Linked DNA regions of Homo sapiens. The protein of the gene in region 3 purifies or fractionates together with the protein of the main gene of each other region. This does not show direct contact. Each region holds a gene or a part of one and is shown on either strand. Other genes may lie near its edges. The genes, in order: ARHGEF40, CEP78 and H2BW1.

What was found.
Region 1: the proteins of H2BW1 (region 3) and ARHGEF40 purify together in Homo sapiens (affinity purification with mass spectrometry; one large-scale study listed by BioGRID and IntAct). This does not show direct contact.
Region 2: the proteins of H2BW1 (region 3) and CEP78 purify together in Homo sapiens (co-immunoprecipitation; one large-scale study listed by IntAct). This does not show direct contact.

The regions. Positions count from the first base shown.
Region 1 is NC_000014.9:21,073,174-21,076,821, reverse strand, and holds part of ARHGEF40 (rho guanine nucleotide exchange factor 40), read right to left. Parts: coding exon 3,580-3,648; intron 2,891-3,579; coding exon 1,642-2,890; intron 1,491-1,641; coding exon 1,323-1,490; intron 1,200-1,322; exon of another isoform or gene 1,178-1,199; coding exon 1,057-1,177; intron 463-1,056; coding exon 366-462; intron 287-365; exon of another isoform or gene 260-286; coding exon 179-259; intron 49-178; coding exon 1-48. UniProt on the Homo sapiens protein: May act as a guanine nucleotide exchange factor (GEF).
Region 2 is NC_000009.12:78,245,979-78,249,626, reverse strand, and holds part of CEP78 (centrosomal protein of 78 kDa), read right to left. Parts: intron 2,959-3,648; coding exon 2,845-2,958; intron 1,337-2,844; coding exon 1,272-1,336; intron 866-1,271; coding exon 754-865; intron 1-753. UniProt on the Homo sapiens protein: Centriole wall protein that localizes to mature centrioles and regulates centriole and cilia biogenesis. Involved in centrosome duplication: required for efficient PLK4 centrosomal localization and PLK4-induced overduplication of centrioles.
Region 3 is NC_000023.11:104,010,815-104,015,234, reverse strand, and holds H2BW1 (histone H2B type W-T), read left to right. Parts: upstream 1-1,526; 5' UTR 1,527-1,658; coding exon 1,659-2,065; intron 2,066-2,486; coding exon 2,487-2,523; 3' UTR 2,524-2,545; intron 2,546-3,771; 3' UTR 3,772-4,088; downstream 4,089-4,420. UniProt on the Homo sapiens protein: Atypical histone H2B that can form nucleosomes structurally and dynamically indistinguishable from those containing conventional H2B.

The DNA.
Region 1 (3,648 bases), on a different chromosome or scaffold from region 3:
TGGCTTGGCCACTCTTTTCAGATCATTCTCTGACAGCACCTCAGCACCCTGTAGAGGGTAAGGCAGGGGGTTTCTTCCTGGGCACCCAAGGACTCAGAAACCAGCCTGGGGCTCCAGCCAGCCTCTTCTCCTCTCCCCACTACTGATGGGAAACTAGATGGGAATGAAGGGCTCAAACCTGAAATCCACAGAGTTCAGTTGGAAGGTCATCATGAATGAGAATCAGCAGCCGCTGAACAAGGGGAGGATCTCCTGAGTCCTAAGGGCAGAAAAGAATAACCCTAAACTGGGCAATCGGGTGTCCTGGACTGGCCACTGGTGAAGAGTTAGGATCCAGGGGAACTGCCTGTTTGAGGGGTGGTTACCTGAAGTTGGCTCAAGGCAGGAATGAGTGCTGGAGGCAGTGGAGGTGCCTGACGAAGGTCCAGCAGGACGGACAGCCCCAGTGTCTGTAGATCAGGCCTGCGGGAGCAGGAAGAGCCAAGGAGGCTGCTGTGTGTGTGTTTTGGGGGATAGCAGATAAGGCAAGGCAGACATACGGGGTCTGTTTTTAGTTAATAGTCCTGAGGAGAAATTAGTTGCCGGTACATTTGGGAAGAAATGGGCAAAGGGCCAAATTCTGGGGTGTGTGTACAAGAGGAAGTCACCTAGCAGTCAGGGGTCTATATTCATATGGCTACTAGGTCAAGGGATTAAGGTCTGGAAAATTAAGAATTCTGTTCTGAAATGGCGTGCATTCAATATCAGCCTGTAGTATGGTGCCTAATAGGTACTCAGTGCTCAATAAATGTTTGTTGAATCAGTGAACCAATGTCCTGATGATCTTGGTAGGGTTGGAAGAGAGTGAAAGTCAACAGTGTTGCTTTTGAAGATCAGTGAAGATATGAAGCTGGAGGTCAGGGTAAGTAAGGCCAAAGGTCAATGGCTTGAAGTCTGAAGGTTGAAGAAGTAGGTGTCCTTAGAGGTCAGAAGGTCAGTGTCCTGAGAAGAAGGAGGTGAGGGTCCTCATGAATCAGGAGGTTAGTGTCCAGGGTGCCAGGACTGGGCCTCGGTTACCTGAGCAGTGAGTGGAGGTAATGAAGAGTTGTGTTCAGCGTGTCTCGGGAGGGTGGGGGCTCCTCAGGAGGGCACGGTGGGGTAATGGTCAGCAGAGCTCGCCCACTCTGGTCCACCCCTCCTGAAGACACAAAATGGCCAGGCTGTCCTGGCTGGGAGCAGTCCATGCCTACCTCCTTTCCACCCTGCCTCCCCCAGTCCCCAAGCCCACCCAATTGCTTCTCTTTCCCAGTCCTGTTTCCCTTCACCCACTGATGCCCACTGACCCGTCAGGATGAGGAATCCAGATGCCATCAAGTCCCAAGCTACATCAGGGTGATCAGAGACGGAGACTGCAAGGGCCTCTTCTGGAATGTTGTCCCCTTTTCCTTCCTGCACAGTCTCCAGCGGAGGTGTTGGAGTGTCAGACAGGGGGCCTTCTGGGCCTGTGTGTCCTGCACAGACACAGACAGAAACATGGGACTGAAGTTAAGATGGTTCTGGTTGTTCTGCTCCCAGCCTAACCCTGCTCCTCCTCCTGCCCCCTCCCATAGGCCCGACCTGCTTTGGCCCTTGCCCCATGAGCCTCACTCCGTGTCATCTCACCTGCCATACACAGCAGGCCTGGCCCCTCCAGCTCTCTCTCTCCGGCCCCCTCTTCTGTAGGCCCACAGGCTTCAGAGAGCTGAGGCTCTTTCTCGCCTGCTGTTTTGAGCTCTTTTGGCTCAGATTCTGGCTTCCCTGAGCCTTCATATTCCTCCTTAACCAGGTGGCATTCTGGAAGCTTGTGCTCACTTGGTGAGGGCAGATTGCCAAGGGCTTCTTGGTGGCTGGCATCTTCCTTGTCCCCAGGGCTCAGTGGGGCACTGTCCCCTCCTCGGCTAAGAGCCCCTCGACCTGCAGCTCGCTTCTTTCTTCTGTTTCCTTTGCCTGTTCTCCGAGGGGTACCAGGTGGTCCTTCAGCCCCCTGGCCTCCTCCTCCTCCTCCTCTAAGCTCCCCTGGCCTCAGGGGGCAAGATCCGGAGGCTTCTCCCACAGCCTCTGCTGGGGGCTCAGACACCTCCAAGACTGCTGCCTCTGGGACAGCCTCAGCTCCTGGGGGAGACTCAGGGGAGGCTCCGGTGCTGCTCCCCTCGCCGGGTGGGCGTGCTCCATCCTGGCCCCGAGGCCCCAGGCCCTTCTGGTGCATCCACGCCCGGTGTCTCCGGTGGCGGCCCTTCCCTCCAGCGCCCTTGCGGGTGGGTACCGTCCGGACTCTGGAGAGGCCTGGGGAGCCTTCAGCATCTGTTGGGCTCCCCCTCACGGGCAGCGTCACCTCTAACAGCTCCACATACTCGCCCTCAGGTCCTTCCACAGGGGCATTGTGCCCATCCCCAGGACTCCGGGTACCCAGCGCCTCCTCAGGAAGTGGAGGGCTGGGAAGCCCTGGAGGTCCAGAGGGCAGTTCTGGGGGCAGTGTACTTGGCTGATGTCCAACCATGAGGCCCTCTTTGTGCACAAATCGTGGACAGATGAGCTCAGCCCAGGGCAGCCGCTGAATCCCAGAGGGCGCAGACAGTAGGCAGGTACTGAGGCGACCTGTTGGCCGGTCCTTGTTGATGCCTTGTAGCCACTCAGGTGTGAATAGGTAGGCACAAGCCTCATTGGGCACAGGAACCTCCTGCACCCGCCCACCCCCAGGGGCCAGACACTTGAGTGCTAGTCGGGGTGCTTGGGCAGCTGAGGGCACCACCTGCAGATAGAAGTCTCCTGGGCGCAGCAGTTGCCAGGGTAGGGCTGCTAGCTGCACCACCACCTGTTCATGCAGGCAGAGCGGCCACCCCTCATGGAAGAAGAGGAATCCACTGTATTGGGCCTGGGGAGAGAGGTGGGAGGCTGCACTCAGGCCTCTGCTGAAGAAACCAGCAGGAGAGGGCAGTTAGAATGGGCCCACCCTAGGCAGGACCAGCCTTATGCCTGGAAGGTTATACTCTCAGGAGAGCAGGAGGGGAGATTTGGGGTATTCAGGTGGCAGAGAGGAAGGGATTGGGACTGATCGGTCTCCCAGTAGTAGGAAGATTCTTCAGGAAGCTAGTTCCATGTGTGGGAGGGTAAGAACTGAATCGTTACCAAGACATGGTCAGCAGATGCCATTGTCTTGGAGAAGCTAAAGACTCTTAGGAGTCTTTATATCTGTAGAAATGAATGATCTCTGTTGACTAATGTACGGGGGAGTTAGTGTCTTGAGAAATTCATATGAGGGGGAGAAGATGTCTGGAATTGGGTCTGGAGAGTTAGGGTCTTTGGGGGTCAGTATTGGGGTCAAGATGAATTTGGGGAAGATGAATGTGTGTGTGTGTGTGTGTGTTAGCATCTGAATGGTCAGTGCCTGTGAAGGTCAAAGTTTGTGAGAGGTCAGAGAATGAAGCTTAAGTGATTCTGGAGAGATCGGTTTCAAGGGAGGCTGTATCTCTAGGTTAGTGGGGGCATTAGTCAGCCTGGCTAGTCTGTAGAGTGTGGCAGTGGATCTTGGGGAAGGCAGAATAGTGATGCACGGCCACTCACACAGGCTTCCTGCTGGACCTTGGCAAGCAGGTGCTTGGCTGGTACCAGGAAGTCCAGCGTGTACCTCAG
Region 2 (3,648 bases), on a different chromosome or scaffold from region 3:
TATACCAAATTTATGTATTCAGGAGAATGTAAAATTTATGCCATTAGCTGATAAACAGTTTATAAAGTCTTTTTTCATTATTCTTGGTCACAAAATTATAGACAATTTCAAAATTCTAGACTATTATTTGGCAGATTAAATAAACCATAAATAGCAAACATTTAGGGAATGTTTGTCTAAAATGTTCCATCTCTGGGTAATAAACTTACCTGCAGTATTGTTTTATAAGGATTACATATATTTTAAGGTTATTTCATCATTGAAAGAAGCAAGGTGCTACCTAATTCAACAACTTTGGGTAAGAATTTGCAAGGAAGGAGGAGGAAACAAGGGAAAAAAAATGGAACTGGGAAGAAATTTTGTTTTCTATCGTATGAAAGGATAATTCTTCATTAACAACAAAATCATACAAAAGCACTGCTAAAACTGTCATCAAAGTGCATCCCAAATTTCAATTGCAAAGTATCAAAAGTAATCATGAATCAGAAAACATATCCAAAATGATGAATATTGTATGAAAAACAAATAAGGGTAATTTTTTAAATGGAAGCACTAGCATCCCTTTCCTAATGATTCATTTACTATTTCTACATTCCATAAATTCTCATAATCTTATCAGAACAATTACAGACCTCATAATATGCACGGAGTCAATATTGGTTGTTACTGTCAATATCATACAATGAGAAGAGATTTTAATTTTAACACACTAGAACACTAGTAGCATTAAAAAGCCAAGACAGAAAAGGTTACCAATTCTAATAGTAGCTTTTCCTTTGTGACCACTTCCTAGAATTATAGTTCTCCTTTTCTGTTTAGCAGTTTTGGATGGTTCCTTCACTGATGGAGAAGTTATCCACTGGTACTAAAAGAGACAGAATAAACACTATATTTCAGTTACAGATCATTTATGAGGGCTACATCTTAAATGGAAATTGTTAAGATACTCTATGTTAATAAAAGGTTTGCAATCAGCAGTTCTGGGACCCAAAATTAAAGAATCATACGGTATTTACAAAAACAGAAAAGACATTTGATTTGACTGTAAATTTAAGATGGCAGAAAAGTGCCTTAATAGTTTCATTTTATTAAAAACAGACGAAAAGCTGGGCACAACGATATATACCTACAGTCCTAGCTACCTAGGAAGCTGGGAAGGGGGAAGATCACTGGAGCTCAGAAGTTTGAGGCCAGGCTGGGCAGTACAGTGAGATCCCAGAAGAAAAGCAATTAAATAAGAATTCTTTCTGGAGAAATAAAACATGATATACCTCTGATTTGGCACTCCTTCCATTCTGGAGGACTTTTTTGATAACTGCTTTCATCATAGAATGATCTAAAGTAAAATAAAAATTGAAATTATAGTAATTATTTCCCAATGAGTGGCTATTCCCATTTAAAAACAAAAGCCAACCAATTATTGCTTTTTCCCATGAAATTGAATATGAATTCCACATAATGTAATTAAATACCTTTTCCCCCTTTGAGTATTCTAACTTCTTCCTCAAAAACAAAGTATTCCTACACACATATTGTCCCTGATGGCTACTATTTTGGCAGCAGCAAAGATCAAATGTAAACACTTTGGAACTAAAGTAGCTTTAGATACCTCTAAATAGGAAATCAAAAGCCTAAACACTGTCCAGATACTTAGATGCTTAAAAGGCACCTAATATACCCAAATCAAAGTCATGATGCGCCCCCAAAGCTGCTCTTCTCCACAGCCTCCTTTTCTCTATAAACAGTACCACCCAGTTGTATGCAAAATCACCTAGGACTTTTTAAAAAAATTACTATTTCCTTTATACCCCACAAGTCTTGTTAGCTACACCTTGTTTCAACCACTTTTTACCACCTCCAACCTTCCACCCTAAGTGAAGCCATAGCCATCTCTAACTTGAACCAGTGTGAGTCTCCTAACTGGCCTCCCTCTTTCCCTTTTATAGCCCCCTACAAGTGTATTCTCCACACCAAGTCATCTGATTGAATTACTACTTGGAATATAACCCTTACCAGCTCAAAATCCTCCCATGGTTTTCAGCTCATTTAGAATTATCTAAGTCCTTACCGTGACCTTCAAACCTTACAAGATCAGGCCCCTGGCTAGTTGTCTGACTTTGTAGCATACCAGTCTCTTCATCACTCAGTGCCCCAACCATATTGGCCTTCTTGCTTTTCCTTAAATACTCCATCCACCCTGCCACCTATGTAACTACATATTCATTGCTTCCTCATCCTGGAAGGTACTTTATCTGCATCTTCCACGGCTTGTTCCCCTCCTAATCAGGTCTCTGTTCAAATGTCCCTTTTTCAGTGAAGCTGTCCCCTAAAAAACCTATCTAATATAGTCCCACCTGCCCCCATCTGTCTTCTTACCTTACGGTATTTTTGCACTTCCTACTATCTAAATTACATTACGTATAACTCCCCAACTAGAATGTAAGCTCTATGAGACCAAGAATTTGTCTAGCTGGTTTACTGCTGTATGTTTAGTGCTTAAACCAGTATCTAGCAGATAGAAGTATTCAAAAATTACTTGTCAAATCAACAAATGAATGAAATACTATTTCCAAGAATTCAGAAGTTCCACAAGAAGAAAATAATGCACTTGGTGGAAGCAGATTTATTATCTAGGTTCACTCCTATTCAGAGTAGCAGCCAAGAGCAATTTAAGTACAACTCTTTTCATCAGTAAATTATCTACTAAAAACATAAGAAAGTGCAAGATTACAAAAGTGTAAGATTAGGGAAGGAAACACATTAAGTTTTCAAAACTGTCAATACATGAGAAATTCTTTTTCTTTTGCTATTTGTTAGTCAATAAAAAATATTGTAGCGACATACCAATGAGTGGATTTTTTCTTATATCCAGAACGACCAGAGTTGTATTGGTTTCAAGGGCCTCTAGCAAAGCCTTTGCTCCTTCATTGGTGAGGCCGCACTGTTGCAGGTCAAGAGCTTTCGATGAAAGACAAAGGGTCACTTGCTAATTCTATACAGATTTTTTGTTTGTTTGTTTGTTTTTTTGAGACGGAGTCTCACTCTGTCACCCAGGCTGGAGTGCAGTGGCACTATCTCCGCTCACTGCAAGCTCTGCCTCCCAGGTTCACGCCATTCTCCTGCCTCAGCCACCTGAGTAGCTGGGACTACAGGCGCCCGCCACCACGCATGGCTAATTTTTTTGTATTTTTAGTAGAGACAGGGTTTCACCGTGTTAGCCAGGATGGTCTGGATCTCCTGACCTTGTGATCTGCCCACCTCGGCCTCCCAAAGTGCTGGGATTACAGGCGTGAGCCACCTCGCCCGGCCAATTCTATACAGATTTAACATACAGACAACTCCCACTTATTCATGCCTGGAAGACTCCTGCCCAAGACTACTCATGGCCAGTTTTTAATCTTGGGTATTGAAAAAATAAAAATAGAAAACCATATGCACACACATAATACAAAAAAGAAACCCTCTTCATAGATGTGTCATGATTACCCTCCCTTTAGTACCAATAAATTACCCAACATATTTTACAATTACAGAGTTGAAAAATAACTCTACATAAAACATCACAGAATGAATATTTGTTCATAATTAACAAGGATGCTAGTGGCAGTGTAAACATCACAGGCAAAAACTGGGTGGAGCTCAGAAATT
Region 3 (4,420 bases):
AGCCTGGGTGACAGATTGTTGTCTCAAAAAAAAGAAAAAAAAAGAATTAGAGAAACAAAATAAGGACTATATATTACAATTTTGCATCACGTAGATGATGGGAACATCCTGTGAGAGCAGCTCATGCCATAGTCACCACTGGCTCAGGCAATAAAGGCTTTCCAGCCCTTGAGGCACCACAAGCCATGGCTGAAAGTGTGGGGAGGTGACCCGGAAATGAACCAGTGAGAGCCTCCCTGGGAGGTTTAACCTTGCAGATTGTGAAGAAAAACGATGTGGCTCTTTCCCTGTTTTTTGTTTGCTTTTTTTTTTTTAAGAAAAATATCATGCTGACTTACTGATATGAATACAGAGATTGTTGTGGACAGGTCTCTTGTGCCTTGTACCAAACTACGAGAAGGATTGTCTTGCTAAACGTTTAAGTAGATTTATAAGATCATCATTTGTAAAGGGGACTGTTCAGAAATGGTGTACTAGAGTTCAGTCACAGAGCTTACCATATACGATCTTATCTAACAACAAAAATGAGCCTTTTTGTCCTTCTTAATCGTGAACCAATTTATTAGGAGTAGAATAAGTTGTTTGCTAAAGACATGACAGGAAATACACTTGAAAGCCTGACCTTTGAAATGACAGTTCATCGATGACCTTTATTTCTTCAGCATTTCTTAAGAATCTTTCTTGTTCAATTCCTGCAACTTAATGTTACTTAAATGCATTTAAGGAATGCCTTTGCGTATATTATCAGAGACTCTTGAAAGCTCTCTTTCTAACTTGAACATAATTTCCATTTCTGGAATCCCTTTCTCTCCCTCAGGGGCTTCCTAGGAGATTTAAGGCGATATTTTTTAACCCAATATCTCTTAAACTTATTAGCCATTTCCAGCTTTTGAGTTGTGATTTGTGGTTGTTGTTTTGCTTTCCTTTTTTTTTTTTTAATTATTTTTTTAAACCTGGTCGATGTCGAGTGTTGTCATATGTTTTTAATAAAAGTGCCTTTCTGTTTCTATTGTCTGCTTGGAGGCTGGGGTATGGCCATTTCTCATTCTCCTGATTCACGGAAGATGTTGATCAGTACTGAAGCCCGGAGCCAGACCGCTAGGTCCTTTGATGCCCAGGCGGCCATGTCAGGGAGTTCCTGCTCAAGCCAGGGTGGCTTAGCCCAGGATAACAGTAGCTTCTGAGATGGGTGACAATTGTTCCACACGTGGCCACAGTCATTCTTCCGGCATAATGGACTTGGGCTCAGGAGGTCTGTCTCTCCTCAGGGATCATGAGCTGAAATTGCTAAACTTTGGGAGTTTTCAGTGACACCCTTCAAAGTGCTCACAGTGTGGCATGGATCAGCTGAGAAGGGCGGATGCGCTTTTGCCCCGTGAGGCATCTATCTGTGTAACTTTCTCCGAGCTGGGCCACAAGGGGCGCTTAGGCCCGCAGACGCCCACTGTGATTGGTTGACGAGATGCCACGCAACGGGACCATCCAGTCACCTTCAACGCAGGTAGGTTTGCTGAGAGGCTCCCTGCGTGACACTTCATCCAATCAGACGTGAAGCTGGCCCGAGACGTGGAGCCATGCTGCGTACCGAAGTGCCCCGGCTTCCCCGGTCCACAACCGCCATTGTCTGGTCGTGCCATCTAATGGCCACTGCCTCCGCCATGGCTGGACCTTCCTCTGAGACGACCTCTGAGGAACAGCTGATCACCCAGGAGCCCAAAGAGGCCAACTCCACTACGTCCCAGAAGCAGAGCAAGCAGAGGAAGCGAGGGCGCCATGGGCCCCGCAGGTGCCACTCCAACTGCCGCGGGGACAGCTTCGCCACCTATTTCCGCCGGGTGCTGAAGCAGGTTCACCAGGGCCTCAGCCTTTCCCGGGAGGCCGTGAGTGTCATGGATTCTTTGGTTCATGACATATTGGACCGCATCGCCACCGAGGCTGGTCACCTGGCCCGCTCCACCAAGCGCCAGACCATCACTGCCTGGGAGACCCGGATGGCTGTGCGCCTGCTGCTGCCGGGGCAGATGGGCAAGCTCGCCGAGTCCGAAGGCACGAAGGCTGTCCTCAGGTACACCAGGAGCAAGTGCGCTCCCTCAGGAGCACCCGAGCACCACGGGAACCCAAAGGGTCTTTTCAGAGCCACTGAATGTGGCCTGAAAGACCAGTGGCTCGCCAAGGGGGACACCACCGGAGGCTGGGGTGGGTGGTGCCCTTCCGACTTGGGGGGCATGTGGCGTGTGGCATCCTGCAATGTTTCAAGCATTTTCCCCTCAGTACTAAACATTGTCAGCTCCAATATATCTGTAGTGCAGTTTGCTCCAAGGAAAAATAGTGGGTGTTTCCGTGATCGTGTTTCATTTCCTCAGTTTCGTAAACGGTCATTTTTGTTAGTTATGTTTCTAGGCTATCTATATGGTGATATTATTACTGCACTGATCTTTACCTTTTTCTGTCTCATTCTCCTGTGACTGGATGGTGGAATTTTCCAGAACTTCACTGTATGCCATACAGCAACAGAGAAAGTGAATACGCTGATACAAGAAGCAAGGTAACCCTCCTAAATGTTTTCAACACCGCTCCCATCACGAATCCATGTAAATAAGCAAATGAGGCCAAGTTACAGTGTACATACAGCTAAATAAAATTTTCAAGAATCCGTTCATTTTCCAGCTTCCTCGACTCTGAGATCACTATTGCAGTTCATTCTTTTTTTGCCATGACGATAATCTTTTCGTTTCTTTTTAAACAGAAACCTTCGTTACTTCCAGGTTTGTGTCAGTAGGCTTAGGGAGTGTCCACAGAAATGGCTCATGCCCTAGTGTTCAGTGGTGTAGCCAATGAGTGACTTGCAGTCTATGAGCAACAGTCATTGTCCCAGTGTGGGGGCAGTGAACCAGGCTGAACCCACAACAGCCTTGCACTGATATGCAGTCTGGTGTTTGGGGGGACAGGGTTGTGATTCTTTACCTGATGTTTTTGTTTTCAGTGTTTGTAATCATGGTCATTTAAGGATATGAATCCAGTGCTAGGAGTAGTATATGTTCCTTGCCCCTAGCATCAAGTTATGCAGAGGATGGTCAGCCTTTAGGAGAAGTCAGATAACGCTTATTTCCTCAAGAGATTTGCATATTAATATTCATGTTAATGTTAATATAGGTTAGCTTTCATTGTGCTTTCTTCTGGGTCCCAAGTCTTTGTATTTTTAGCACTTTTTCCTATGAGTGTATTGTTGAATTTCAGAGCAGCTGCTGACTTTCCCATTGCTTTTCTTTTCAGAGGATCTCCAGCCGCCCGAGTATGTGGACCAGAGAACATACTCTGGGATTGCGACCCATAGGAATTTATTGTATTGTGCCTTGAAGCTCAATATGTGGCCATTTTTGTCAAATGTTTCCCGTGAATTTTGAAACATCTCATAAACAACCTTTCTCCTTCATATGTAGAAACCAGTAAAGGGTGACACTCTCAGTCAAACCATGAAACAAAAGCTGGGAAAATGACAAAAATCAAAATTTTCTTGAGCCCATCAGAAGTGGGAAAGAACCACACCAGATGGCCCAACACATAGCCACATAGATTATTCCACCTTTGGCAGAGGACCGTTTGGTCAAGAGGGAAATGGGGGCATGGCAGGATAGTAGCCAGAGCTTCCCTGAGTAGTGCATTTGGGCAGCGTGGGCAGTTCACCTCCAGAGCTCCACTTGGGCTCCGTAGAGAAAGGATGTAGGGCCAAGAAGTCCCCTCATTGGGATTTGCTACTTTCTGTTTTTGCAGAATATTAGAAAAATGTCATGAAAATAGTTGAAGAGAAATGCTCACTGCACAAGGAGACCAAGAAAAACCCCCCACGAAATCAGCCACAACTAAATCGCTCTGGACGGTGCCGCCAGGTGACCCTACATGTCCGGAGCAACACTTTGAAAACCAAAGACGCTTGGCAGAACCCTGTTCCTTTCCAGAGACAGAGCTGTGTACCTTGTCTAAAACACCGCATCTCACTCAGTGACTTATTTCTCATTATGCTAATTGTTTTCGCTTTAAAGCGCCAGTCTTTCTGTCAAATGGGACATACAAATAAATTTCTAAAATTATCCTTGCATGTCTACTGGGTAATTTGACATGTCTTTTTCAGAAACCGTATCCATTGGGATATTTTACCCTGGAGTGTGTGTTTTCCATTTGTAAATTCAGAAATGAATGAGGAGCATTAGTAAAACAGCGTTAACAATGAACTCTGATTGGGCTGTGGGGAGTGAAGAGTGAGAGTTCAAGGGGACTGATGCCGGTGAGTTATAGGAAGAAAGAGAAAAAGGCTGCTTTGATGTGAAGATGGGCAGAGGAGCTCACACATCTGCTATAGCATTTCAGTGGGTGATTGAGGAGAAGGGGAACCTAGTGAGCAATCGTGATGTCAAGCTGTGGC